Regions from separate parts of the Homo sapiens genome. Here all the other regions are linked to region 1. The links come from fine-mapping of genetic effects on gene expression. A gene starts in region 1. Each other region holds a variant in brackets. All regions are shown on one strand. Distances are between the middles of the regions.

Region 1 (5,000 bases):
TGTGTCAGGTCAAGAACTTGGTCCTGCACCTGGAGGCTTGATGAAGGGCTTTAGGCCAAGGAGTGATATGGACAGAATTACCTGTTCTCATCATTCCTCTGGCAGTCCCTAGGTGTGTAGGATGGGGGCTGGCAGTTCCCGGAAGCAGAGGAAGTAGGTACTTGGCTATAGCAATAGGTGATGCCAGAGAAGGTGAATCTCCAAGTCAGGCAGGAGCAAGGAGGGAAGGCAAGCAGAGCAGGAGGTTCTGCAGAGGGAATCCACTGAAGTTAGTGACTGGTAGACTGGTGAGTGAGGGAGAGCCCTAAGTCTGTCTTCTGTGACATTCTGGGGGATGGCATCGTCAACCGAGGAAGGAAAGATGGACAAAAGAGCAGTGGGTGTTGTATTGGAGGAATTGTGGGGAGACAATGCGTGTTGTATTGGAGGAAAGGCTGAGCAGTTTTGAGGGATTTAGTCACAGTAATCCATGACTGCAGTTAGCTTATAACGTCATGAGAACTATTAAAATGAGACTACTATCCATATATTTATAACTTCATTTGGGCCTTGGACATGGCCTAATATGTTTCACTAGTCAATTGACAACCCAAATCATTAAAATACTCCGTTATTTTCAAATGTTGAACTTTCTCATTCCCCTATTTCCACATTCTCTCTCTACAGATAACCTCACCTCTTACTTCATCTCAAAATAGAAATGATTTCTCCAAAACTGACGACATCACTACTGAAATTCCTTGTTTTCACTGGTTCTGAAAGTGATCCCCCGAACCCAACCACTTAAGCCAGAAACAGGGTTATCAATGCCCAAACTGAAGGAAGAGCTTGATGAGATGGTGTCAGGAAGAAAGGTCAGCGCTAACTGATGACTGCAGTAGTCAAAAATGGAAGCAGAGGGAGAATGAGGGGGAAGCCAGAAAGGTCCCCATAGGTTCGTAGGACCATGGTTGGAGCACGTTTACAGTGGAGCACCCAAGCACCAAATTAGGCCTAAGGACTTTCAAAGTCACTTCTACCCATAGGCTTACTAGCTTTGTAATCTGGAACAAATTATTTTACACCTAAATGACTGTTAGACTAGATTTCTTTAAGGTCTCTTGGAGCTTTAAAGTATTATGATTCCTTTGAGAACATTTCAAAATGTGTGTGTGTGAGTTACAAACTTAAGCTGCCTACATTACAAACTGAAGGTCTTGCTTTAATAATTTCAACTAACTGATAAAATCAAAGGCTTCTTTATGTGATTCTTCTGCCCTACTAAACATAGGTGTGGATAGTATTAAATGAATCTGTAAATATGAGTGGGGATCAAACACATCACCTGACTAACATTTTTACAAAGCAGTTCCCAAAACACTGAAAAGTTCATTGCAACAAAACCAATTTACGATTGATGAAGAGGTATCTCAATTGTAACCTTTACATGCATGACATTTCAATCAGAATATTGAGTTAGCAGTTTCAGACTTTGACTTTTCAGACATACACTCATACAAAAATACATTTCATATCATTATTGTTTAATATATTATTTTTGTTTAAAATTGATAGTTGTCCTATAATTTTATGTCTAGCTGAATTCCCAAAGTAGAAGTACTAATGTGCAGAGAATTCATGAAAGGTTTTAAAATGTCTTACAAATGTAAGATTATTTGAAGCTGTATCAGCTTGTAATTTAAGGCCTGCAGCTGCTGGTATGATAGAAGTATCAAATTTCAAAAGAAATTATGGTAGAGTATAAATAAGCAGAATGAAGAGAAAAGTCTCCTGAGAAGAAAATAAAATGAGAATGAAGCATATGCATTGTTATTGCATTGCTCCTTTTTTTCTTCATTTTTTATTTCAGGTTCGAGGGGTACATGTGCAGGTTTGTTACACAGATAAATTGCATATCACCAGGATTTGATGTACAAATAATTTCATCGCCCAGGTAGTAAGCCCAGTACCCGATAGACAGTTTTCCGAACCCCACCTTTCTCCCTCCCTCCTTCCTCAAGCAGGCCCCAGTATCTGATTGTTCCCATCTCTGTGTGCATGTATACTAAGGCACTGCTTCTTATATTCAAGGTTTAGTACTAAAATGCAAATATGAAGTATATAATTTAGTAAGTTTTAATCCTGCTGCAAACCAGGTCACATAAAAATAATGCAAAATAAAATATTAAAATTATTCAGAAGTTCGATATTTATTCTGTTGTCTTTACACCTTATAAAATGGAATGACCTAATTACTCTTAAATAAACATAAAGACAATTTAAGGTCACATTTGTTACATTCACATAATTTGTTAAACACAATAGAAATGTTAGTTTACTAGAAAAGAACTGTCATAATTTTAACATGCAGAGTTTGTTTACCTTCTATTATGGTGATCTTTGTTTAAGATTTTCTCCTCAGATGTTAAAAGTTTTTCACTTAAAGAGGCTTAGGGAAAGTGATTTTTAAAGAGTCACTGTTACATGGTAATATGCCGTTCATTTGGATGAGACTAGTATATAGGTAATAGTCACAAGTTCTAACTTGCATGTTAATTTGAAGAGATTTTTCGTAAAATTTTATCAACATTAGTTTCTAATGGAAACCAGTCTTAGAAGTTTTCTGCTGTTTGTTTGAGGTAAAGTTTTTTTAAGAAAGTTATAATTACATTAAACTATCATGCTTTAGGGTTTAAATGTTGGAAAGTTGGTTTTGTAAGAAGAAGAGTTTGGTTTCTTGTTTGTTTGTTTGTTTTGGTTTGTTTTTGGCATGCGAAGAGCTGTGTCCTGGAATTGGTGCCCAAAAAATTTTAAGTGTGGTATGAACTGTTTATGTCACTGAGTAAAATTAGACACGTCTGTTGCTAATGTGAGGGGATGAAACATGAGACAGGGCGAAACTCGTGAGAGCCCTTTCTCCAGGGACAGTTGCTGAAGCTTCATCCTTTGCTCTCATTCTGTAAGTCATAGAAAAGTTTGAAACATTCTGTCTGTGGTAGAGCTCGGGCCAGCTGTAGTTCATTCGCCAGTGTGCTTTTCTTAATATCTAAGGTAAGTGCTCAGTTTTAACTTAGATTTTATATCAGTACAAAGTACTACCTAAAAACCAAACGCTTAAGAGGTTTCTTAATATTCTTTCTTCTTTGGTGGCATAATAATAAATTTAAAATAATGTTGAATAAATTGGTGTATCACAACATAATGACATATCAAGTATCAATGAAATTCTCATTTCAACTAAGTTATTCTGACTACAAATATGCTACATATTTTTAGCATAATCCTATATTTCTAACATTTTTAATTTGTAGAATGCCAAAGGTAGCATTTCTGTATTATTGGGCATTGAATTGGATCCTGTAGTTAATTTAAACAAAGTATTATCTTTAAGATCACCTACTTCTAATTCTGCTCTTAAACTTTAGTGGTAGAATTACATTTGCTTTAGATTTTCTTGATAGTTTTGTTATAGACACTAAGAAATAAACTAAAATGAATGACAACAAAAGTCCAGTGGTTTTATAAGTTGGAAATAAACAAAACAAGAGCAAAATAGCAACCTGACTCCTTCACTATTTTTGGAGTGAAAAGGGAAGAATGTTTCTTTCCCTAAATCTGGAAAATATAAAATACTGCTCAAAATATGTATGAAAAAATAAACATAAGTGGGGTAAAAGTACACATGTGCTAATGCTTCAGCTTACTGAAGTTATGAGTTCTTTCTTTGCGTTTTCTAAATTAATACATGACAACTAGCAAACACAATTTTTTTAAAGGAAGGATTAGAAAAAAATAATACGGAAAAATATAACTCAGCTGACTGAAAGATTTGCCAGCAGACCAGTACAAAAACGAACTACGGAATACACCGTTTGTTTTTTGCTTATTTTCTTGCAAACATTTTGTAGGTACAAAAAGGCACCTTTGTGGAATTTAAAAAGTAATGCTACAAGTTGGGGTTCGTTTTATAGGTTCTAGGATTCATTTCAGATTGTCTTTCAAAGACAAATGAAAAGTAGCATTTCAATGTAGTTAGATATAGCATTCCAAAGACTAACAAATTCAGGTGTCCAAAAGATATCAGCTAAGCTTGCAGTTAAAATGCGGAAAATGAAATTGTTCCATATTGTCCTTTAAAAAATGTACTTGCTAGTCATTAAACTAAGTTGTTATTAAATTGCATTAAAAATTAAATGATAGTTGTAAATTATAGTGGGTTCCCAATGTGTTCAGTTTTGCATAACTTATAGGGCCTGAGGATCTCCCTCCACTCCCTAATCTGTGGCTCATCACAGCGCTTGTGTCTTCTCAGCTTGAGGCACCAGGGCTGTGGTTTCCCAGTGGGAGGGGAGAAACTACAGCGTCCTGAGGATGACTCTGCTACTCTCCTGCTCCTTCAGAACCCACCTTGACCTTCATGACACCTTCCTGTCTCTCCCTCCCTCCCTCCCCTTCTCTCAGCCTCTATAGCACCTGTCTGGCTTTATTCTTCTCCAGACCTACTGCAGGGCCAGATAGTTCTACGACGTTCTCATGAGGATTGCAGGATCCATCACTTGCTACTTTGGCCATTTTGGATTCCAGCTTCATTTTTAATTTTATATGTTATGCTGTAGATAGTTTTATGGGAACACTGGTACAGGAGTATTTAGTAATTTGTGAATGGTAAAGGTCTCAAGACTTTTCTCAGAACCTGTGAAAATCTCACTGCCTGCTCGACTTCAGTATGACTGGTGGGTAGGACCACTGAGGAATGGGGACAGGAGGGCTTGCTGTGCCCAAAGGCGTTTGTGCTTCATCCTAAGCACCAGTGAGACCTTTGAACCTCTAGAAAAGGAGAGCAGCCCAGTCACATGGGTGCTTTGGAAGGATCACTGCAGTTGACATGGAGAATGGATTAAGGGCAGTGGAGGCGGCAGTGAAGAGTACCTTAAAACCTAGCTTCACCTTCGTGACTTCTTTAACTCTGTTTTTAAAATGCTCAATTAATTTTACTTGAGAAACATCTCTGGAAAGTCTAA
Region 2 (8,511 bases), 170 kb after region 1:
AGAAAGAAAGCAAAGAAAGAATTATGGACTTCATATGCGCAAATTACATTATAGCTGCATAACGTCATTTGATAAGCTACCAGTGAGCTTTTTGCACAGGCTATCATGTTCAGAGATTCTAGATTAAAAAACCTGATTTTTTAAATTTTTAATTTTTAAAAAGTTTTGGAGTACCTACACAAAGTGTACAATTAATTCCAACTTTATAATAAAGAAAAAGAGATTTTATCATCTATTTCCACTGCTTGTCCATGGTAACCAACAATAATTACAAACTTCTAAGAATTGTTCCACGAACATCTATCCCTCCTCTGCTTGAATGAAGCAAGAAACTTTTAATCAACTGGACTGCTACAGTTCTGTGAGATTTCTGTGTATTTGGGTCCCTTAGGCTAACTAAACTAGTAGCTAAGATAGAGAGCAAAGGTGTAACCAAAGAAACTCAATTCTTCTCATCTTAACATCATTCTAATCACTTTAGCAACAGGCACCTTGTTAGTTAGGCAATACTGATTGAGTGCTAGAGATATAGAAATGGACAACTAGACATGGTCCCAGACCTGGCCCTACAGTCTAATGGAGAAGGCAAGTATCAGATAAATTATTACAAATACTTAAACAGGTACCAGTGTGTGAGTGCCATGGAGAACAGAGCATGGAAGCACACATGGGTTGCATGAAAGATGAGCAGAGGTAGTGAATGGAGGAGTTGGCAAGGAAGCCACATGTATCACACCTGAGGGAGGGACAGAACATGCTGTCCTCCAAACAGGAAAAAGCATGGAACTAAGGGAAGGAGATTAAAAATAGCAAATATCAATAGAACCTTCCATGTACCAGGCATCTTCATAACACCCAGAAAATGGAGCCAGCTAATGAAGTGCCTCATAGGAAAGGTTACGGATTTTGGTCTCATCTAATAAATAAGTATGAAAATTTTAAAAATTATAAATAAGACCCGACACCAAGCATCTGTACCACTAAACTGTTCTTGTTTCCTTTTTCTTCATCCAAAATCCATTTACCTGCTCTTCTAACTATTCTCCAATTTCTGATATCCATCCATTTACTTAAGCAACTTAATACAGAAATAATTCAGACCTGGAAATTAAAAAAACAAAAATCATAGCTTCAACTCTGCAACTCAAGCAAGTCATTTAAATCCCTCAATTTCTTTGAGCTTCAATGTCTCAATCTCTCAAATGGAGATACAGGCTCTATTATCTCATGGTTGTAAAGAATAAACAAGATTACAGAAGACACTGATTTGAAGAGAACTATTAACTCACAGACACTAAGAAAGAGATTTGCCTTTTGGCCTCTGCGCCCCATCTCCTCCATGCGGTCCCCACCCAGCCCAGCAGCTGAAGCATCAACTTATCCAGTCAAACTTGGCAAGCAGGCTCTCGGCCAGACCTTGGAAATATAAAAATAAAGATTGCCCTTGCTCTCAAGGATGTTGCAGTGTAGCACAGTAAAAACATGATTCTAATAAAGCAAAGAGGATCATATGGACTATGTACTGGGTTCCAAGAGCAAAAGAGAGGCATTCACCTCAGACTGCAGGGCAGGGGTGAGGCACAGGGCAAGATGTCAAAGAAAGCTTCCTGGAGGTGACACATGAGCTCAGTACTGAATGATGAATAAACATTAGCTGGGCAAAGTAGAGGATGGAAAGAAAGTATTCTAAGCAAAAGGAACACCATGTACAAAAGGGCAGCTATGAGAAAATTTTCATGCAGGAAAAAAAATACTGAGCACCTACACTGAAGTAGGCACTGTGCTAGATGGTGGTAACAAATCTGACAGGTCTCTCTGCTCTCATGAAATATAGGGAGGATTCAAGTTCATCAACCTACAAGTGCTTGTATAATTAGAACAGAAGAGGGCAATTAGAACAGAAGAGGGCGCTTGCATGCACCAAGGCCAGTGAGACAGCACTCCAAAATCATGGAAGTTTACAATCATGGAAAGTCCCCTAGTTCATGCTAGCAGGGCTAGATTTATCCTGATAGATTCAATGTCCACTGGAAAACCTGCAGCAGGAGGGTGACATGATCAGATGAAGCCCAAGCGCTGTAGACAGGGACATCAACTGCAAGAGTCCAGTAACAACATTACGAGAAATTAGAGGACCTGTAATAGGCAGTGGAGTAAGACCAAGGGACTGGCACAGAAAATTTAGTCAACAGATCCTGGAGACTGTGGGGAACAAAGAAGAAAATTTAAGGATTCATTCTTGAGCAATCTTGTGGACAGTAGTGTTATTTTCAGTGGGATCACTCAAAATGAGAAACAGATTTGGGGAGAGGATGAAGACTAAAGTTTTGCAATATTGATTTTGAAATACTTATGGGATTCCAAGTGCAAAATGCTAACAATAGCTACCATTTGTCAGTATTATATTAAGTGCCGGATATTATGTTAAACTATATGTATTACGTATTCATCATTCGATCTTCAGCATAATGCCTGCTGTGAGTAAAATATTACAATGAAGCTTTCAATAACCTGATCTGCTGCAATAACACAAACTTGGATACAACTCAACTGGCAAGGTGTGGTTGCTCCCATCCTCTGCTCAATCCTTATTTCATTATCCTTGCAGTGAAGCAATCCTGAATTTTCTGTAATCAAATCCTGGGGACCTTGAGATATACCCTTAGAAGGATAGTACTGTATTACCATGTTACTGATGAGGAAACAGGGGCTCAGAGAGGGTAGAAAATTTGTTCAAAGTCACACAATAGAGGAGTGAAGTTTAAGCCCAGATCTGGGTAACTACAAAATCCAGGTTTTTAATCTCTGCTACACTACCTCTCTGAAGACTAGGGTGGTGACTGAAGATATGGTGGTCACTAACACTTTCATGGGAGTGGATGAATGTATTCAAGGAAAGGAACAAAGTAAAAGAGCTGAGGAAGGAGCCCCCACACTAACACGTATTTAGGGAGTGAAGTGAGGAACAGAGGTTCACAAATAATTCTGAGAAGCAGGCAAAATCAGTGAATGCCAAGAAGGAATGGTATCATCATGGCTGAGGGCTTCAAAGAGGAATACCAAGCTTCTGGGAGATCAGGTAAAAGAAACAGAAAAATCCACTGAGCTGAGTAACAGAAAAATCATTAACTAGTGACGTCAGCCAGACTATTTTAGTGGAATGACAGTGGAAGCAAAAGTCTGTTTGGAGTGATAATAAATAAGGAGGAAGTACAGACAATAAGACAACTCTTTCCGGAAGCTGGACTATGATAGAATACAAGAAAGAAAATCAAGGTGGAGGTCTGTTTTGTTTTTCCTGAAATGAAATATAGTGAAACATATTTAACTGCTAATAAAAGGGGCAGTAGAAGTAAACACTAAAAATACAAGCAGTAGCTCAATATTTAGCTAAGGATTTTAAATGTAATACAAGGAAAAGGTACAATTATTAAATAATGTGACAAATTTTGTTTGAGCTACAGAATTAGAGGAAAAGTTTCCATATCAGAAAAAACATATGATGTTTCCATTTTATGCAGTAGTACTTCCAAGACTGGCCAATCAGTGTTTACTGATCACTCATAAACAGAATTCCATAGTGCTCTGTGTCAGCAAAGCAATGGAGTAATCATTATGTAGAGCAAAAAATATCAAATGTAGTTACATGTCTGTGATGCTCCCTACCATATATGAAGGGGGCTCCATAAACATAATACTCCGCCTTTCTTCTCCTGTACTCACTAATTCCCCCAATAGGCCCCATACCACCAGAAAGCAAGATGACTTACATGATTGGTAAGTTGAGAAAAAGCATCTGCACATGCTCAGCAGGACTCAAAGGGACAGATGTTTAGTAGGGGCAGGACCTCTGGAAGGAAGTCTGTGGCTTTCCAGGGCTACCTGTGACTAGACTGGTGAGCTAATCCATTTCACTCTGGGAGTCAATAGAAATCCAATGCCTGCCACAGCTATAATCTCCAATATCACAATAATCAGTGACAGAGGTGGCTTCTGACATCCATCTGCTCAATCCCTCTGCTATGTCTTCACTATGTCTTCACTGACTCACAACTCAGGAAAGGAAAGCAAGGTGTCACTTACTGGTTCCCCGTAAGGCCCTATATCATCATGCTCTCAAAACATTAAAACCATTAATGGCAATAAAGTTATATCAAAAACTAATTTTTGTCTGGAACACACAGATAAAAATAAGTGGGAAGATACCCATATGACTGGTTTAAAAAAGTTTAAAGGCTAGTGATATGGTTTGGCTGTGTCCCCACCCAAATCTCATCTTGACTTGTAACTCCCATAATTCCCATGTGTTGTGGGAAGGACCCGGTGGGAGATAATTGAATCATAGGGGTGGTGTTCTCGTGGTAGCGAATACTGTTCTCATGGTACTGACTAAGTCTCAAGAGCTGATAGTTTTATAAGGGAAAACCCCCTTCTCTTGGCTTTCCTTCTCTTTTTGCCTGCCGCCAAGTAAGATGTGGCTTTAGCCTTCTGCCATGATTCTAAGGTCTCCCCAGCCATGTGGAACTGTGAGTCCATTAAACTTCTTTTTATTTACAAATTACCCAGTCTCAAGTATGTTTTTATCAGCAGCATGAAAACAGACTAATACAGCTAGTTATGAGGGTTA[T/C]TAAATAATCATGAAAATAGTAGCCTAACTCTTAAATCTAGATAAAGAAAAGTGACCATCAAGACAATTTCTGGGAGTGCTAACCCACACATGATGTGTGATTAACAGAAACACTAGATGAACATCTAGTGTCACAATGCCAAGAAAACTAACCAAGACCAGAGACAAAACACAGTGTTTCATTATGACACCAAAATAACAACTTGAATCCATAGTAGAGAAAATGAAGACATATAAAAGTGGGAAAATGCAACTTTGAAAGATGTCAAGTTTTCTATATTAATTTATACATTTAACTCATCCCTAAAAATATAACAGGTTTGCCCCATCCACCCAGGGCTAGAGAAGCAAGTTGTAGCCACACTCTGTGCCACAAGATATTTGGAAAATGCTGAGCAAAAACAGAATGCTCTGCTGACCTTCTACCCTTCTCACCTGATTTGGCCCTGAATAACTTTTGGCCGATTTCCAAATCCACATCCACCTTAGAAAGGATCTGCCACCAACAAAAATATTTTCTTTAAAAGAAAGTAATAAACCACACAGTAAAATACCGTAACAATCAGAAAGAACTGTTAACAGCTCCATGCAACAATCTGGATGAATCTCACCAGCATCACAGCAAATAAAAGCCAGACGCAGAATATATGCCACATGGCTCCTTCTATACAAAGCATGATTAACTAGCAAAGTGAATCTATGCTGTTAAAGCCAGTGTCATGGCTACCCTGGAATGGTCAGACTGAAAAAGGCAAGAGAGGGGCTTTTGGGGCTGGTAATCTTCTGTGTAATCTTCTGGTAATCTTCTGCGTTCTGATCTAGGTTTACATGGGTATGTTCAGATGGTAAAATTTCACTAAGCCTACATTTATGATATGTGCACTGTTCTATATGCATCTTATATTTCAACACAAAATTTTAACAAAAATATAATACAACATTAAAAAAAAAGGAGTTCCAAATCGTTAGAGCAAAGATTGGCAGGCTTATAGGAATCCAGGCTTAGACTTTCAAAAAGGTTGTTTTGAAGATGACAATTACAATTAAATGAGTAACTCAGACGTTTGAAAAGTCAGTCTCACAGCTACCAACTCATAGATGCAAATCCCTGATGGGAAACAACATTTGCCTACTCATTTTCTTTTACTCTCACTTTAACTCCAACCTAACTTGCCTCTCCCATTCCAACTCATTTCACTTATATTTTAATGAATAAAGGTGTACAATGATTAGCAACTTTCCCTAAGCCATTATCCTGGACAAGAAAAAAGTACATTCCATAAAAGACACATCACAGAGTATGCTTGACAATGTGAACAGCAGGACAAACCCAGAACTTTTCAGGACAACATCTCACTTAGAAAAAGCTCAGGTAACAGTTTCACAAGGAAAAGGATGCTTGCAGAAGTTGAAAGGTAGTATTAAAATTAGAACCATGTTGACTGTTTTCCCAAAATTACTGTCTTTTCCTAAAAGGACACCTATCAGACACCCATCACTTTAAGACCCCCGCAAGACCCTTTTCCTGCCCCTGTTACAGAGTTAATTGGATTTGTCCACACTTCCCAGAAGCTGATCAAGCCTAATGCAAACCCAGCATCATAACTACATAAAACCATGGAGGGGCAGTGGTGTCAGAAATAGAGCAAGGACAGGGCAAGTGGAAGACCTGACCTCTCGGCACTTGGCTGGTGGTCTTGATCTTAACCTTTCTCTCTCCTCTTCTGTGAAATTTAATAATCACTGTCATTACCAAACAAGCTACAAGTTATGCTGGGAGGCTCAAATGAAAAAAGAAATGGGAAAGCACTGGAAAACTGTAAAGCACCATGCAGGTATAAGATGTTGACTACACCATCACACCATGACAGGAGAGATTTTTACACTTATCACCTCTGGATTCTTTTAGACAGCATCTCTTAGATGCCATTCTGGCAACTGAAATATCTTAAAACACAAAAAGTTTATTAGCTTGAGCCATAAGAAATTGTTGATTTATAGGTCTAAAATGAATAACAGAAAACTTTTAAAAAACTTGTATTTTTATATAGAAGTTTATTTAAAAGAATACTAAACTATAATACCTCGGGTTTGGGCAGCTTCCTTTAAAGCAGCCACAAGGTGAGGTTTCAAGTTATCCAAAATAAATCTTCCTTCAAGACTTGGGAAAAGGGACCTGAAAAGGGAAAGGAACAGCAATCATCATAATCTTCCCACAATTCCAAGATTTTAAAAAAACAATCACATATTTTCAAGTCAGTTAAGCCGACTATTTTATTTTACATAAATTATAATGCACACATCAAATCAAATTACAATATTTTTGATCAAATATTATCTAGACTTTGCTTTAAAACGTGAAGGCATCATGTACTTTACTCAAATTCAGAAATATTCTCAACATCTTACAGTAAAATTAATTTTATTTCCTGAAATGTCAGTACACTCTCGTTTATAAAGAATTACTTAATATACTATTTTTCATGAATTTAAATATTATCAAAATAATTCATTAGTGACTAATCTGGCCTTGTTATTATTTGCACTTTATAAACATTGTTTTCAGTGTTCTGCTATTGAAATTTCCAAGAAAAACAGCTGCTTAGATAACTTTTCAACTGATAAACATTTGAATACTTTTTCATTTTAGAATATAAAATGTATCCTTTGGTATTTTAACAATGTATTTCTGCAAAAGTCTTCCTAACTATAAAATCGACATAGAAAACCATTGAATTTCACAACAAAGGACTCTCACAGTGAGCAGGAGCAGGGGAACCCTAAGAGTGAACAGGAATGTTAGAAGGGGGACCCCTACCTTGGATATTCTGCTGAGGTAATATAAATGACATCTTGGTCTGATACAGATGAGGAGAAGGGGACAAAATTGCCATTTTGTAAAGGGAGCAGCTCCAGCCCAAGCAGCTCACTGTAGGCTTGGTCAGAAAGCACAAATTCTAGAAGGTGAAGCTTTTCTTCAGCACAGCCCAGGTGTGCACACTTCCGCAGCACCTGCCGCACCCACGCGGGCGTCACCTTCCTCACAGGTGTTGTGCCAGAGGCAGCTGTGAGCTGAACAGCAGCATCCACATTCCCTGGTACCTTGGCAATCTGCTTCCCTGAGCTCTGGAGGTAGTTGAGCACAGTTTTTGTGTATTCTAAATTTTCATCAAGTTCTGAGAAGTACACCTGCTCCAACCTGACCCAGTCACAGCTAATTGAATAAATCACTGCATTCTGCAACAGCTCGCTGAATAGAGGCTCTAACACCGGTTGCCAGTGCACCTTGACTTTGCTCGCCTCCGGCCAAAGCTTATAGATAACATCAACTGACAAGGGGAAATCAGAGCTCTTTTCCATCTCCAGACGTTTTATTGAATCTAAGATCAGAGTAGCATAAGCTTTGGGGACAACATTCATGACAAGAAACTCATTCCATAAGGCTGCCGGGTCTCTCCACTGGTCCAGCTCTCTCCATTTTATGCTCCTGCGGTTATCAGTAAGGCCAAAGAACCCACTGATGTGAACTGGGAGGCCTGTGCTGCTTTCCTCACCAGGTGGTAAAGGAAGGAAACAAAATGCTTTTCCTGAGAAATCAGACGTTGCTCCTTTTGCTTCATCATCTCTGCTTGATAAAGGCATGGCTATTCCAATGATTGGGACAAATTTCAGTTCATCAGCTAAAGAGTCAAGCTTACTACTGATCCCTCGCCCACCCACACTGTTACACACCAACCAAGATGTTTTCTGTGCATCCTTAGTACTCTCCTCTTCTAAAACAATATTTACGTGATATGTTACACAGGTGATGTTATTGCTTGGAGTCTTTTTACAATAGTTACTTATAGCAGTTCCCAGAATCTTTATAGAATTCGGCCGCTCAT
Region 3 (8,511 bases), 21 kb before region 1:
TGCTTTGGTGGACTAGGTGTGAGAATGATGGAGGCCAACCACCTCTGGAAAAAAACAAAATCCTGGACTGGTAACTGGGGTAGAGGGAGTCTATCTTCTTGGCCACACCTACCAAGAGTACAGCTTCCATCACACTGAGTTGGGGGTGGGGACTGAGTGGGTAGTGGTTCAAATGCCACAAACTCACACTGTTTTTACCAATATTTGTTAGATTTTAGAAATAAATATTTCTCCATTTGCTGTATGCCCTTAGGATGATTCCAGAGGCTTTAGTTAGTTTTAAAAAACAACAACAACAATTTTCAGTAACCAAAACAGCATGGTACTGATATAAAAGTAGATACATATACCAATGGACCAGAACAGAAATCACAGAAACAGGCCAGGCGCGGTGGCTCACGCCTGTAATACCAGCACTTTGGGAGGCCAAGGCGGGAGGATCACGAAGTCAGATCGAGACCATCCTGGCTAACTTGGTGAAACCCCGTCTCTATTAAAAAATACAAAAAATTAGCCGGGTGTGGTAGCAGGTGCCTGTAGTCCCAGCTACTCGGCTGAGGCAGGAGAGTGGTGTGAACCCGGGAGGCGGAGCTTGCAGTGAGCCGAGAATACGCCACTGCACTCCAGCCTGGACTGAATGAGGCTCCATCAAAAAAAGAAAACAGAAATCACAGAATAAAACCAAATATTTATAACAAACTATTATTCAACAAAGCATACAAAAACATAAATTGGGGACGGCATACCATATTCAATAAATGGTGTTGGGAAAACTGGATAGCCACATGTGGAAGAATGAAACTGGATCTCTTTCACCAACTACAAAAATCAACTCAAGGTGGATCAAAGACTTAAATCTAAGACCTGAAACCATTACAATTCTAGAAGAAAACTCAGGAAAAAACTCTTCTGGACATGGCTCTAGGGAAAGAATTTATGACTAATACCCTAAAAGCAAATGCAGCAAAACCAAAAATAAATACATGGGCCTAATTAAAGTAAAAAGGTTCTGCACCACAAAAGAAATAATCATCAGAGTAAACACACAACCCACAAAGTGGGAGAAAATATTTGCAAATTATGCAACTGACAAAGGATATTAGTCCAGAATCTATGAGGAACTGAAACTAATCAAAAAGGAAAAAAAAGGCCAGGTGCGGTGGCTCACGCCTGTAATCCCAGCACTTTGGGAGGCCGAGGCAGGCAGATCACGAGGTCAGGAGATCGAGATCATCCCGGCTAACACGGTGAAACCCCGTCTCTACTAAAAATACAAAAAATTAGCTGGGGGCGGTGGCGGGCGCCTGTAGTCCCAGCTACTCGTGAGGCTGAGGCTGGAGAATGGCGTGAACCCGGGAGGCGGAGCTTGCAGTGAGCCGAAATAGCGCCACTGCACTCCAGCCTGGGCGAAAGAGCGAGAATGCCGTCTAAAAAAAAAAAAAAAAAAACCCATGTAAAAGTGGGAAAATGACATGAATAGACATTTCTCAAAAGAAAAATGTACAAATGGCCAAAAACACGAAAAAATGCTCAACATCACTAATCATCAGGGAATTGCAAATTACAACCACAATGAAATACCACCTTACCACAGCCAGCGTAGGTATTATTAAAACTCAAAAAGCAACAGATGTTGGTGTGGATGTAGTGAAAAGGGAACGCTTATACACTGCTGGTGGGAATGTAAATTATTGTAACCTCTTTGGAAAACAGTATGGTGATTTCTCAAAGAACTAAAAGTAGATCTACCATTCAATCCAGCAATCCCATTACTAGGTATCTACTCCAAAGGAAAAGAAGTCACCATATCAAAGAGACACTTGCACGCATATGCTTATTGCAGCACAATTCACAATTGCAAAGATATGGAACTAACATAAGTACCCATCAACTGATGAGTGGATAAAGAAAATGTGGTACATATATGCCATGGAATACTACTCATCCACAAAAAAGAATAAAATGTCTTTTGCAGCAACTTGGATGGAGCTGGAGGCCATTATTTTAAGTGAAATCACTCAGGAATGAAAAAGCAAATACCGTATATTCTCACTCATAAGTGGGAGCTAAGCTATGGGTGCACAAAGGCATGCAGAGTGGTAGAATGGACATTGGAGACTCAGAAGCCAGAAAATGGGCAAGGGATAAAAAACTACATATTGTGTACAATGTATACGGCTCGGTGATGGGTGCACTAAAACCTCTGACTTCACCACTCTACAATTCATCCACATAACTATTGAAATTTAAAAATTACATCATCAGAGGCTGCGGCAGGAGAATGGCGTGAACCCAGGAGGCAGAGCTTGCAGTGAGCCAAGATCGCGCCACTGCACTCCAGCCTGGGCGACAGAGTGAGACTCCGTCTCAAAAAAAAAAAAAAAAAAAAACAATTACATCATCAGAATTTTAAAAAATAAAGTTCATTACAGCTAAAAATAAATTTCAAAATAAAATAAAAATAGTTCGATCAGGTAGAGTTGTTTCATCGGGGAGAGGATCTACAGAGAGATCTGCATGTCACCATTCCAGTGCTTTTCTTTGATTTTTTTTTTTTCCCCTGAGATGGAGTCTCCCTCCATTGCGCAGGCTGAAGTGCAGTTGCACCATCTCGCCTCACTGCAACTTCCACCTCCCGGGTTCAAGCGATTCTCCTGCCTCAGCCTCCTTGCTTTTCTTATTTATATGTACTTTCATATATCCTTTTAAAATTTATCTTTCTGTTTTACAATATAAACAATATATTGGCATTCACAGAAAATATACAATAAATTCATAAACGCATATAACTTATAAATAAACATACATGTATTGAGTTGCTCAAAATTCTTATTACTGGTAAGATGTTCGGTCCAGTCTGGAGATGGTATCCCTTGCCCACACCCCTGGTTGTTTTCATACACCACTTCGGATATATTTAGCTTTTTATCACGGGACTCATAAGTTCTCTAGATCCCCACTGCGATCGTCATCACCAGCACAAACTGTTGCTAATAATTTATTTCTAAGCCAACAAAGGAGAAGTTCTGGCTCTGAGATCAGATTAGTTTTGGCAATTAAAACACATTAATAACTTTTGAATTCTTTGGCAGAAATATTAAACTGCAGCCTTTACTGATTAGTACGGACATTTTTAGAGTAATAATTCACAATATCTGTCATTTGCTGCCTGTGAAATATGTAGGAAATTATTAATATACCCTTAATAATATATCTCTATATCCATCTTGTTTATCCTTTGCTCCTTGAGGGGGATATTTTTAGAAAATGATTATCACTGTCTATCAACTATAAGAGAGAGAAGTAATTAGAGAAGTATTGCACTGGACACTTCTGGAAAATTGGCTTTTCTCGTTTCAATTTCTACCTTTGCAAAAGTTTGCTTTTAAAAAGTGTAATCTAGAAGTTGTAAACATTTCTGCCTTGCAGTTATCCATTCTGTTACATTAAAAACATTTTAAAACGGTCCAACATCTTTATGTTTCTACTTGGTCCCAAATATGGTACCAGATTTTTACTGTAAAAAATCATAAAATACACCAGCATGATCCTTTCGGGAATATATTTGAAAGTTTACCTCCTTAGCACACTCACCAAACATCTTCAGATACCCATACCATTCACACAAAGCTGGTAAAACCAAGATGCTCCCCCGTGATGCATGTGTACGGAGAATGTCAACGAATAAATAAGTGAGTTAAATACACAAGCACTAATTAGAAAACTGTATTGAGAGGTGAGCCCAGCTGGACTTCCTGGGTGAAGTGGGGACTTGAGGAACTTTCCTCTCTTACAAGAGGATTGTAAAACACACCAATCAGCCCTCTGTAAAACACACCAAGCAGCGCTCTGTAAAACACACCAATTGGCGCTCTGTAAAACGCATCAATCAGTAGGATTCTAAAAGTAGCCAATCATGGGGAGGATTGAAAAAAGGGCACTCTGGTAGGACAGAAAAGCAACATGGGGGCGGGGCAGGGGAGGGAGAGACAATAAGGGAATAAAAGTTGCCCCCCATGCTGGCTGGAGTCTCCTTTCACAGTGTGAAACGTTTGTTGTTTTGGTCTTCACAATAAACCTTGGTACCGCCAACTCTTTGGTCCGTGCCATCTAAAAGCGCTGTGACACTCACCGCGAAGGTCCCGGCTTTATTCCTGAGACCACGAACCCACCGGCAGGAACCAACTCCAGACTACTATGTGCTACAGAGAACTTCTTCAGGCCTTGAAAATAGAACATAGTAAAAAGCGGCTTCTTTGTCCATGGATCAGCAGTCACTATTTCCCAGCTCGCCTCCAAGAGCTAACTAAAGTGCAGCATAAACTGCATGCAGCATTGTTTTCACCACAGCAAACCCTTCGGGGTGCCTCCTAGCGGCGGATGGAGAACTAGCATTGCGCGAGAGTGAGTAAACTGTGATAAACCCAAGGGGTTTGCGGGGGACAGGCTGGGTGGCAAGACTTTTAAAGGCTCGCAAATGGAACCACTCCCTCCAGAGGGACTATCTAAATCTCCTCAGGTGCTGACCCTTTCTGACAGTAAAGGACGAGGGCCAGAAGTGTAAAGATTGTGGTCCCGCGCTCCAAGCCCAAGATGCGTTCAGCAGGAGTAGTTGGGTTGGAAAGAAGGCACCCAGCGTCTGCAGCGAAGGACTCGCGTGGGAGCGAGAAATGTCCCTGCCCAGTGCCCCGCGCGCTGGATCGCGGGGGCGAGTCTGAGGGTGGAGAGGCCGCCGGGTGGAGGCGCGCAGGGGTGCGTGGGTGGGTGCGGAAGGAGTGCAGGGTATGGAGGGGAATCTTGGGGCGGCGCGAAGGAGGAGCGCTTGGAAAGGCGCGGTGTTTGGTCACAGAGGGGCTCGGAGTGGGAGTGCAGGGGTGCGGGGAGGGAGTGCAGGGACGCGGGGAGGGAGTGGAGGGGTGGGGACGTGCTGGAGGGGCGCGCCTCGATAGAACTGGAGAAACTGGAAAAGTGGAGGGGCGGGGCAGTGGCTGGAGGAACCTCTGAAGCGACGCGGGGAATATGTGAAGGAGTGCTATGTTGGAACTTGGAGGGGAGGGGGGATGCTGGAGAGGCACACGGTGATGGACATGGAAGGACCCGGGAGGTGTGGAGTGGTGGGCCCGGCCCGTCGCGGGAAGGACACAGAGGGACATAGGCTGCCCTGGAGAGGCGCTTTCGGACATCTGGAGGGGCGCATAGTGCTGGGACTTGGCGGCGCCTGGGGCGGAGGGGCGCGCCGGATCCAGCCGGGCGCGCTCGGGGGCCGGGCGCAGTGGGAGTTGACGGGCGTCCAGCCGGCGGCGCCCTGGGCTCGGCTAGGCGCAGGACGGCCCTGGCAGCGGTGCAGCAGCCCAGGCTAGTTCCTGGGGGGTCCCTGGTCCCCGCCTCCCCGCGCGCCCCGGCCAGCACCGCCCGGAGTCCGGGCGGGGAAGTGGGCGCCCGCGGCTTGGGAAGCTGCTCCCCCGCCCTGGAGCAGAGTCGTCGCTGCGGTCGCTGAGGAAGGACGGAGCAGAGGCCCGCGCTGTCTGGGGAGAAGACTGTGGTGTCATCCCGTCGGGAATGAAGGGAAATGCAGCGGCTGTTTGCGCCCCGGGACTCCAAGAAGTACAGCAGGTAAAGAGAATAGCCACGGCCCGCCACTTCGCCTTCAGTTCCCCCAATTCCTGGGTCCCTTCCTTCTCCTCCAACCTCCTAAACTAACCCCTCTGTTGTTAGACGTCCCTATGCCGGTTCCAGCCTTCCTCCTAGGACTCCATCACCACCCGTGCCCTCTTTCTCCTCGCCTTCTCTGCCCCAGACAGCACTTTCCTTCCCCTGCCCC[C/G]TTGTGGGGGCTCAGGGACAAGAGTAAAATGTAATTTAGACAGTTGGCTTTTCTTTGCCCAAAGACTTCACTAACTGATCCTCATTCTGCAATGAGACTTAATAACTTCCTGTGTGCGTGTGTGTGGTGTGAGAGAATCAGAGTGAATTGGTTCTCTGCAAATGATTTTGCCAAAAACTTTGCCCTGGGTTGCTTGCTGGGGAGTCTGTAACACTGAGTAAGCGGAGTGTCTGCACCAAGTGCAAAGTTGCGTAGGGGTTACTTGGGGGTTTTAGAGGGGAACTGAAGCGCAGCAGCGGGGCTCTGTCGTCTTCAATGGGATTACATAATAACTTGATGATCCTCACCACCCTTATACTCATTACCTCCATTAAGTACCACTAATTAATATTTACATATTTGCATGCTGTCACTTGGTTACATCAGCGTTAGCAAGTTGCTTGTTCTTACATCATTACCGAGTATTCTGATGTTTCTGAATGTTAGCACGGCACCAGCCAGTTGATCTGTGAAACATCTACTCATCCAGTGATAATATTGTACAGGCGGATTTTGTAATGCTGGCGCTCCATGTATATCCGTACTATTCATGTACTAATACTCCTGGCTGTTCCTTAACACAGGTAAATTGGTGCTAATAAAGCAATGGAATCGTATTTACATTTTTCAATGTAATATGGGTCTTCCCATGCTTTTCTTCCTTTGATATGAACAGACTGTAAAGAAGCTGTAAAGAAGAGATTGCACAATTCTATTCCAAAAGTACACATAAGCTAAAATCTTCGTTTTTGTTGACGTAATCTTTTGCTAACAGGTTCAGTGTCTCTGGTATTAAAACTTCCTTTCATGACAATATGCTTCCAAATTGACTAGCAAGCAGGCATCCATCCACATGTGTTAAAATATCTTACAGTAAACTTTTAAAGTTATACAGCAGTTATATCTTCAAATATTGTACTTAAGTCCTCTGTTCTTTTCATCTTTAATGTTTTTGCTGAATCAGACAGACACAATATTTAGTGGATGTTACACGTAAATAATTAACGTGTATGATACACTTAACACCGTGGCCTCACATGTGCCACGACTGTACTCTGTCAATCTTTCTTAAATCTCAGAAAAAAGGTAGTGATAAATAGCTCATTTAATAAATTCAAATGATCAGAGCTACATAGCCTAGCTAGTCTACATAACAGACTATAAAATCAATAAACTTTCACGTTGTACAAATAATTTATTTACATTTTAAAACTACTAAAACACCTCTCAGAGATAACCAGGATAATAATACTCCATTTTAAAAGTAACATTTTATAAATTGTGGGTTGGTAATATTTAAGATCATTTTTATTTAAATATGTATACACATATATACACACACTATTACATTTTAATCAGCATCATTATGTTATCTTAGGAATGGTTTTTTATTATTTGTCAGACTCTCACTTGATGTTTACTGCTTAAGACTGTATCCTGGGCGGGCGCGGTGGCTCACGCCTGTAATCCCAGACCTTTGGGAGGCCGAGGTGGGCGGATCACGAGGTCAGGAGATGGAGACCATCCTGGCTCCTGGCTAACACGGTGAAACCCCGTGTCTACTAAAAATATTTTTTTAAAAATTAGCCGGGCGTGGTGGCAGGCGCCTGTAGTCCCAGCTACTCCGGAGGCTGAGGCAGAAGAATGGCGTGAACCCGGGAGGCGGAGCTTGCAGTGAGCCGAGATCAGGCCCCTGCACTCCAGCCTGGGCAACAGAGCACGACTCCGTCTCTTAAAAACGAGCCTGGGCATCATGGTGAAACCCGATCTCTGCTAAAAATACAAAAATTATCTGGGTGTGGTGGCACACGCCTGTAGTCCCAGCTTCTCGGGAGGCTGAGGCAGGAGAATCACTTGAACCTGGGTGGCGAAGTTGCAGTGAGCTGAGGTCGCACCAATGCACTCCAGCCTGGGCGATAGAGTAAGACTCCGTCTCAAAAATAAATAAATAAATAATAAATAAATAAATAATTTAAAAAATAAGACTGTGTCCTACAAGAGACCTTATTGTACTGTGGGTAAAATACATAAATGTCTAGGGACATGGTTATAGTTAACTAAAAAAGATAAAGATAATTTTATTTCTTATTCTAAAATTGTAGGAAAATGATTTATATGGACATGATAATAGTGGTACAATAATTCATACTTAAGTGATGGTACCTTGTATTTTTTGAATGCCAATTTTCGTAGGTTTTCTGTAGTTAAATGTGAAGTAAAAAAATTGGTTGTGTGTTGACAGTGGTAACAATACAATGTTTTCTATACAGGGATCCCTGGTTAAAGTAAACTAGCATATACATTTCTAAACATGACATCTTCAAAATTAGGAAATAAAATTAACTACCTTAGCAACATGCATTTTGACATTTCATTTTGTTACATATGAGGGAAATATTTATGCCGGAATAGGAAACAGCAGGTAAAGTAAGAAAAGGGTAAAATGATACTTTCCAAGGTAATTTAAGGTCCTGGGGCCCTTTGAGAATCTGGTAATAGTTACAGATCTGCTGTCTAGAAAAATGTCTGGACCTAATACCTAATTTGGACTCAATTTCAATTAGGTTAATACCTAATTCAGACTTGGTTTGAAGAGGGGACCCAGTTCTGGACCCCTGAGTGGGATCACCTAAATTAAATCCCAGCATGGA
Region 4 (5,000 bases), 120 kb after region 1:
TTGAGTGTTAAAACCAAGGCAATTGAAAAAAATAACAAAACTGCAAGGAAATGCTCGAGGAGTGTGGTGAGGATGGGAGGTGGGAACTAACATTCACTGAATGCTTTTGACTGCCAGGAACTGTGCTCAGTGCTGTCACAGAATTTGTTTCATTTAATTATGAAGTGATTGGCAATTTTATCCCCATTTTATAAAGGCAGAAACTCAGATCTAGATAGTTCCATGTTGTAAGTCACAAAACTAAAAAGGTAGCCACTCATAATCGAATCCAGCTTTGACTCCAGAGCCCATGTACATCCAGTTTGCTGTCTCCACCACCCAGCGGATCCTTGAGAGATTGATTCTTTGATTTACACTGAGATGCCTCTGACTGATTATATGATGGTCATATCTTCTTCTTCTGCAACTTCTTGCCATCAACTATGTTCCACTTTTTATTTCTGGTTCCAGCAGCATTACTATTCCTGGCCTGATTACAGTAAAAAGATTCTGGAATATCTTAGTTGGCATATATATATATATATATATATATATATATATATATATATATATATATATTTTTTTTTTTTTTTTAGTCGGAGTCTCACTCTGTCCCCAGGCTGGGGTGCAGTGGCGCGATCTCGGCTCACTGCAAGCTCCACCTCCCAGGTTCACACCATTCTCCTGCCTCAGCCTCCTGAGTAGCTGAGATGACAGGTGCCTGCCACCATGCCTGGCTAATTTTTTGTATTTTTAGCAGAGATGGGGTTTCACTGTGTTAGCCAGGATGGTCTTGACCTCCTGACCTCGTGATCTGCCCGCCTCGGCCTCCCAAAGTGCTGGGATTACAGGCGTTAGCCACCGTGCCCGGCCTTAGATTTACATTTCTTATGGCAAAATCATTTGCAAGGAAAGTATGAACGCTGACAAACTACCTTAAAGCAACCTTGCATTCACACATGATGTAATTCATTCTTTTTTAAAAAGTCAGCAAAAGTGTATTAAAGTGTTTATGTGCCAGATATAAAAGGCATGGTCGTTGACCTCAATGAGTTTACAGTCTATTGAGAAAAGAAACTTGCAAACAAGTTAGAAAAGTATATTTAACTGCTATGATAAAAGTACAACTTCTATTGGAGGCATAGGCAAATAAATATAAAATCTTCCCAGGGTAATCTGGGATGATACCCCAGAAAAGGGAGGAGTTGAATTCTGTGTAACACCATAAGGATGTGATGTCAATTAAGTAAGTTATTATTTCCACGTCTGTTCATCTACTTATCTAAGGAAGATACACATATACTACTGTGTGGATGGAAACATTTGCACCTGTTGCAAGCACTTGCAAATACGAAAGTTTACCTAGTAAGTGTTTATAAATACTAAGCTCAGTTAGAAACCAAGAAAGGGTAATTCCCAGGTCCCAACAATAAAGAGGCAGCTCATGGTCAGAGTAGAGGAAGAGTTAAGCTAAGCTACTCATAGAGAAATCAGGATACATAGAGACTAGCTGCTGAGACATTAATGCTGATGTGGGAGTGAGATTCCAAGTGATTGTTCAGTGTGCATGAAACACCCTGGCTGAGAAACCTCCGAAATCCTGACCTCCCATGAATCAGGTATTTCACACAATATGCCCATCAGCCCAACGATGTCACAAGAAAGATTGCTATTTTAGGCCATGGGTTGAAAAATTACCCACAAGAAATCATGACCTGCAAGCCGTTGCCTGGCCGAGGTAGAAGCAAACGCATACTACTTCACGGTATAGGAACTCCGAGGTGGCAAATTAACAGTAAAAACTGCACCAAAGTCTGTGAAACTCATAGAACCATTTAAAAACAGAGAGAAACGACATTGAAGAAGTTATCCCATCACACATGACATAAAGACACTTAAGGAAAACAATACCTGCTAATGACTAGTTTACTAAAAAAAAAAAAAAAAAAAAAA[A/G]GGGCCGGGCGCGGTGGCTCACGCCTGTAATCCCAGCACTTTGGGAGGCCGAGGCGGGCAGATCATGAGGTCAGGAGATCAAGACCATCCTGGCTAACACGGTGAAACCCCATCTCTACGAAAAATACAAAAGAATTAGCCGGGTGTGGTGGCAGGCACCTGTAGTTCCAGCTACTCAGGAGGCTGAGGCAGGAGAATGGCGTGAACCCAGGAGGCAGAGCTTGCAGTGAGCCGAGACCACGCCACTGCACTCCAGCCTGGGCGACAGAGCGAGACTCCATCTCAAAAAAAAGGAATTGAACTACCATGGAGAAGAATTAGAATTAGCAGCTGCTACAAATAATCTCCTGGAACTGTTATGTCATAGAGCAAAGCAAAGAGATTTTTAGAACAAGTATAAATAAAATGCTCAAATGAGGAAAAAAATGAATAGAAATGAGGGAAAAAATGAATAGAAATGTAAGACAAAGACAAGATATTTTGAAAAATGGCAGATTTGGGAAATAACAAAATAGAAATTATAGAAATGAGACATGAAGTAATTAAAATAAAATCACTGGCCCCCAGAACTTTGTTTCTCATACCATTCTCCAAGGAACCGGGACTTCTTAGAGAAGTGGCTGATCCCAGGGCTGGGCCAGGGAATGGTGAAGATGGGGCTTGGAGCAGCCTAAAGTTCAGGGAAATGCTAACCAAAAGAAAGTAGGCATCGCGATATTAATAGCAGACAGAATCAAAATTAGGAAAGAAATAGCATTAATAAGAATCAATGGGGTCCGGCGCGGTGGCTCACGCCTGTAATCCCAGCACTTTGGAAGGCCGAGGCGGGTGGATTACCTGAGGTCGGGAGTTTGAGACCAGCCTGGCCAACATGGAGAAACCCTGTCTCTACTAAAAATAGAAAAATTAGCCAGGCATACATAGTGGTGCACACTTGTAATCCCAGCTACTTGGGAGGCTGAGGTAGAAGAATTCGCTTGAACCCGGGAGGCAGAGGTTGCAGTGAGCTGAAATCACACCACTGCACTCCAGCCTGGGCAACAGAGCAAGACTCCATCTCAAAAAAAAAAAGAAAAGAAAAAAAATCAATGGGAACACTACTTGATGATAAAAGGAAATATTTACCAAGTCAGTTTAGCAATGATGACCTTTTATGGTTTAAATAACATAAATCATTTTGAAATAAAATTATTTTCATTACTTTTTAAAACGTACGGATGGAATCTAAGAAGCATGGATATTTGATGCCCACCATCAAAGAACTGAAAAACATACAAACAAGCTCTTCTTATGGAGTCAGAAAAGTTTTCTTTTTGTCCTTGACCTAATACTTACAGTTCACTTACCCAAAATTTTTTCCCAATATACACTACTTAGTGATTGACAGTATTTCATTGATCACTCTATCCTATTTCTCCACAAGAAATATATTTATATAATTATATATATAATTACTTCTAGTGACTATAGAATTTTTAAAATTTCTTTTGGATAGAGTCATAATTTAAGGAGAAAACAATTGATCAAAACAGTATAGCTGTAGTCACCCTACAGTGCTATAGCACACTAGAACTTATTCTTCCTATGTAAGTTGTAATTTTGTATCTATTAGCCAGCCCCTCCCTATCCTCTCCTCCTCCCATTATTGTATATTTTCAAATAACTAAAGGAGAGAATTTCAGATGTTCCCAACATAAAGAAATCATAAATGCTTGAAGTGATAAATATGCCAATTACTCTGATTTGATTATTACATATTGTGTATATGTATCAAAATATCACTCTGTACTCCATAAATATGTTCATTTATTACATATCAATTAAAAATAATTTTTAAAAGAAAAAATCAATATATTAAGATTTTTGATAGTAACAAAAAGTAAAATTGTATAAAACTACATCTTTTAGTGAATGGTTGGAACTTTTTAAAAACTATTTGATAGATCTGCTAATAAATATAGCTTATTAATAGAAGGAGTCAAGATCAGGCATCAATATCTTTCCTGTTTTTTAAGTAGATGTCCCAAGGAGCCTGTTCACATAAGTAAGTAGGTATGAATCAAAAAGTTTTATTTTTTAAAAAGTCACTCTACGTTCTGAACTCTTCCCTAAATATACACCATTAAAAGTTATTTGTAATGACTATCGGCGACAATTCATTAGGTCTTTCTTCAATTTTTGTTGAAAGTAAAGAATTAGAAACTGTGTAACTTGCCAAATGATTACCTCGTAATCACTGTAGTCATTCAATTTGTCAATTCTGTCACCAATTTTTTAATTTTCCCTTGCACATTACCCCTGGAAGTATTTCTACCCCAGTGTAATACATCATAATCGATTCAGAATCAATGAGCATGTCTTTCTTTATAAAGTGGGAGAAGGAGATTGTTAAAAAGGATCTGGGAAGGGGAACCCCTGCAAGCTCCCAGCCTGGCAGTTCAGGGCAACAGTCCTCTTCTGCCCCTGATGAAGTAACTGGGACTGGATGCACCATCTCTGGTAACCAGGAGAACACTTGACAAATATATGAAACAACCACTTTCAGACACTGGATAGCACGAAGTGCAAAACAAGACAGAAACTAATGAGGTGAGCCCTACACTTGCCCGAGCTCTCTGCCCACAGGCATGTTCAGAATCAGGGCACAGGGAAGGGGAATCCAGTCAGTGCACGGGAACCTCTGGGAGTGGAGGAGAAAGAGATCCGAGAGTGGGGAGTTGAGGCTAATGGAGTCTGTGGGGCACAGGATCAGAGAAGAGGGCATATGCCAGGAAAGAGCTCCGGAAATCACATACAAGTTCCCAGGTATGCACGTATCAGAGGTTTTTCAACTGCTCCCCTATATATGGGCACCTGATTTATTTACAATGTGCTTGTGCAGGTAAATTTTCATATTGTTGGAGATATAGCTCCATGATAAATTCCTGGAAGAGGAATCCATGGGTGAAAAAGATAAATGCACATATTGTTTACTCAGATAATGCCAAATTCCCCTTTCGGTGACTTTCCCCTCCATTGAGGTATACCAATTTGCACACTAGCATTGTTACAATAAATTCTATTTTCCT

Alleles and levels. Positions count from the first base shown, and alleles are read on the strand shown. Sizes are in standard deviations (SD) of each study's normalised expression.
As copies of C replace T in region 2, the expression in esophagus mucosa of the gene that starts at base 2,934 in region 1 goes up (small effect, 0.21 SD a copy in GTEx).
As copies of G replace C in region 3, the expression in lung of the gene that starts at base 2,934 in region 1 goes up (small effect, 0.28 SD a copy in GTEx).
For the expression in subcutaneous fat of the gene that starts at base 2,934 in region 1, G is the high allele of the variant in region 4 and A is the other (moderate effect, 0.60 SD a copy in TwinsUK).

Evidence for each region.
Region 2: its variant is fine-mapped to the expression of SGCG in esophagus mucosa (GTEx, PIP 0.97).
Region 3: its variant is fine-mapped to the expression of SGCG in lung (GTEx, PIP 0.98).
Region 4: its variant is fine-mapped to the expression of SGCG in subcutaneous fat (TwinsUK, PIP 0.95).

Annotation. Positions count from the first base shown.
Region 1 is chr13:23,178,046-23,183,045 of GRCh38, forward strand. SGCG (sarcoglycan gamma) reads left to right here and starts at 2,934. Exons shown (of 8, transcript NM_000231.3): 1 at 2,934-3,030.
Region 2 is chr13:23,347,074-23,355,584 of GRCh38, forward strand. SACS (sacsin molecular chaperone) reads right to left here. Exons shown (of 10, transcript NM_014363.6): 8 at 7,446-8,511; 9 at 6,712-6,803. Among named protein-coding and RNA genes, the nearest start is that of SACS-AS1, 68 kb to the right of the region's middle. The variant T/C (reference allele first, on the strand shown) is at 4,628.
Region 3 is chr13:23,155,034-23,163,544 of GRCh38, forward strand. LOC124903134 (a long non-coding RNA gene) reads right to left here and starts at 4,643. Exons shown (of 2, transcript XR_007063719.1): 1 at 4,133-4,643. It also overlaps a transcript of SGCG not described here. The variant C/G (reference allele first, on the strand shown) is at 5,822.
Region 4 is chr13:23,298,900-23,303,899 of GRCh38, forward strand. All of the region lies in intron 6 of SGCG (sarcoglycan gamma), which reads left to right. Among named protein-coding and RNA genes, the nearest start is that of SACS-AS1, 120 kb to the right of the region's middle. The variant A/G (reference allele first, on the strand shown) is at 1,933.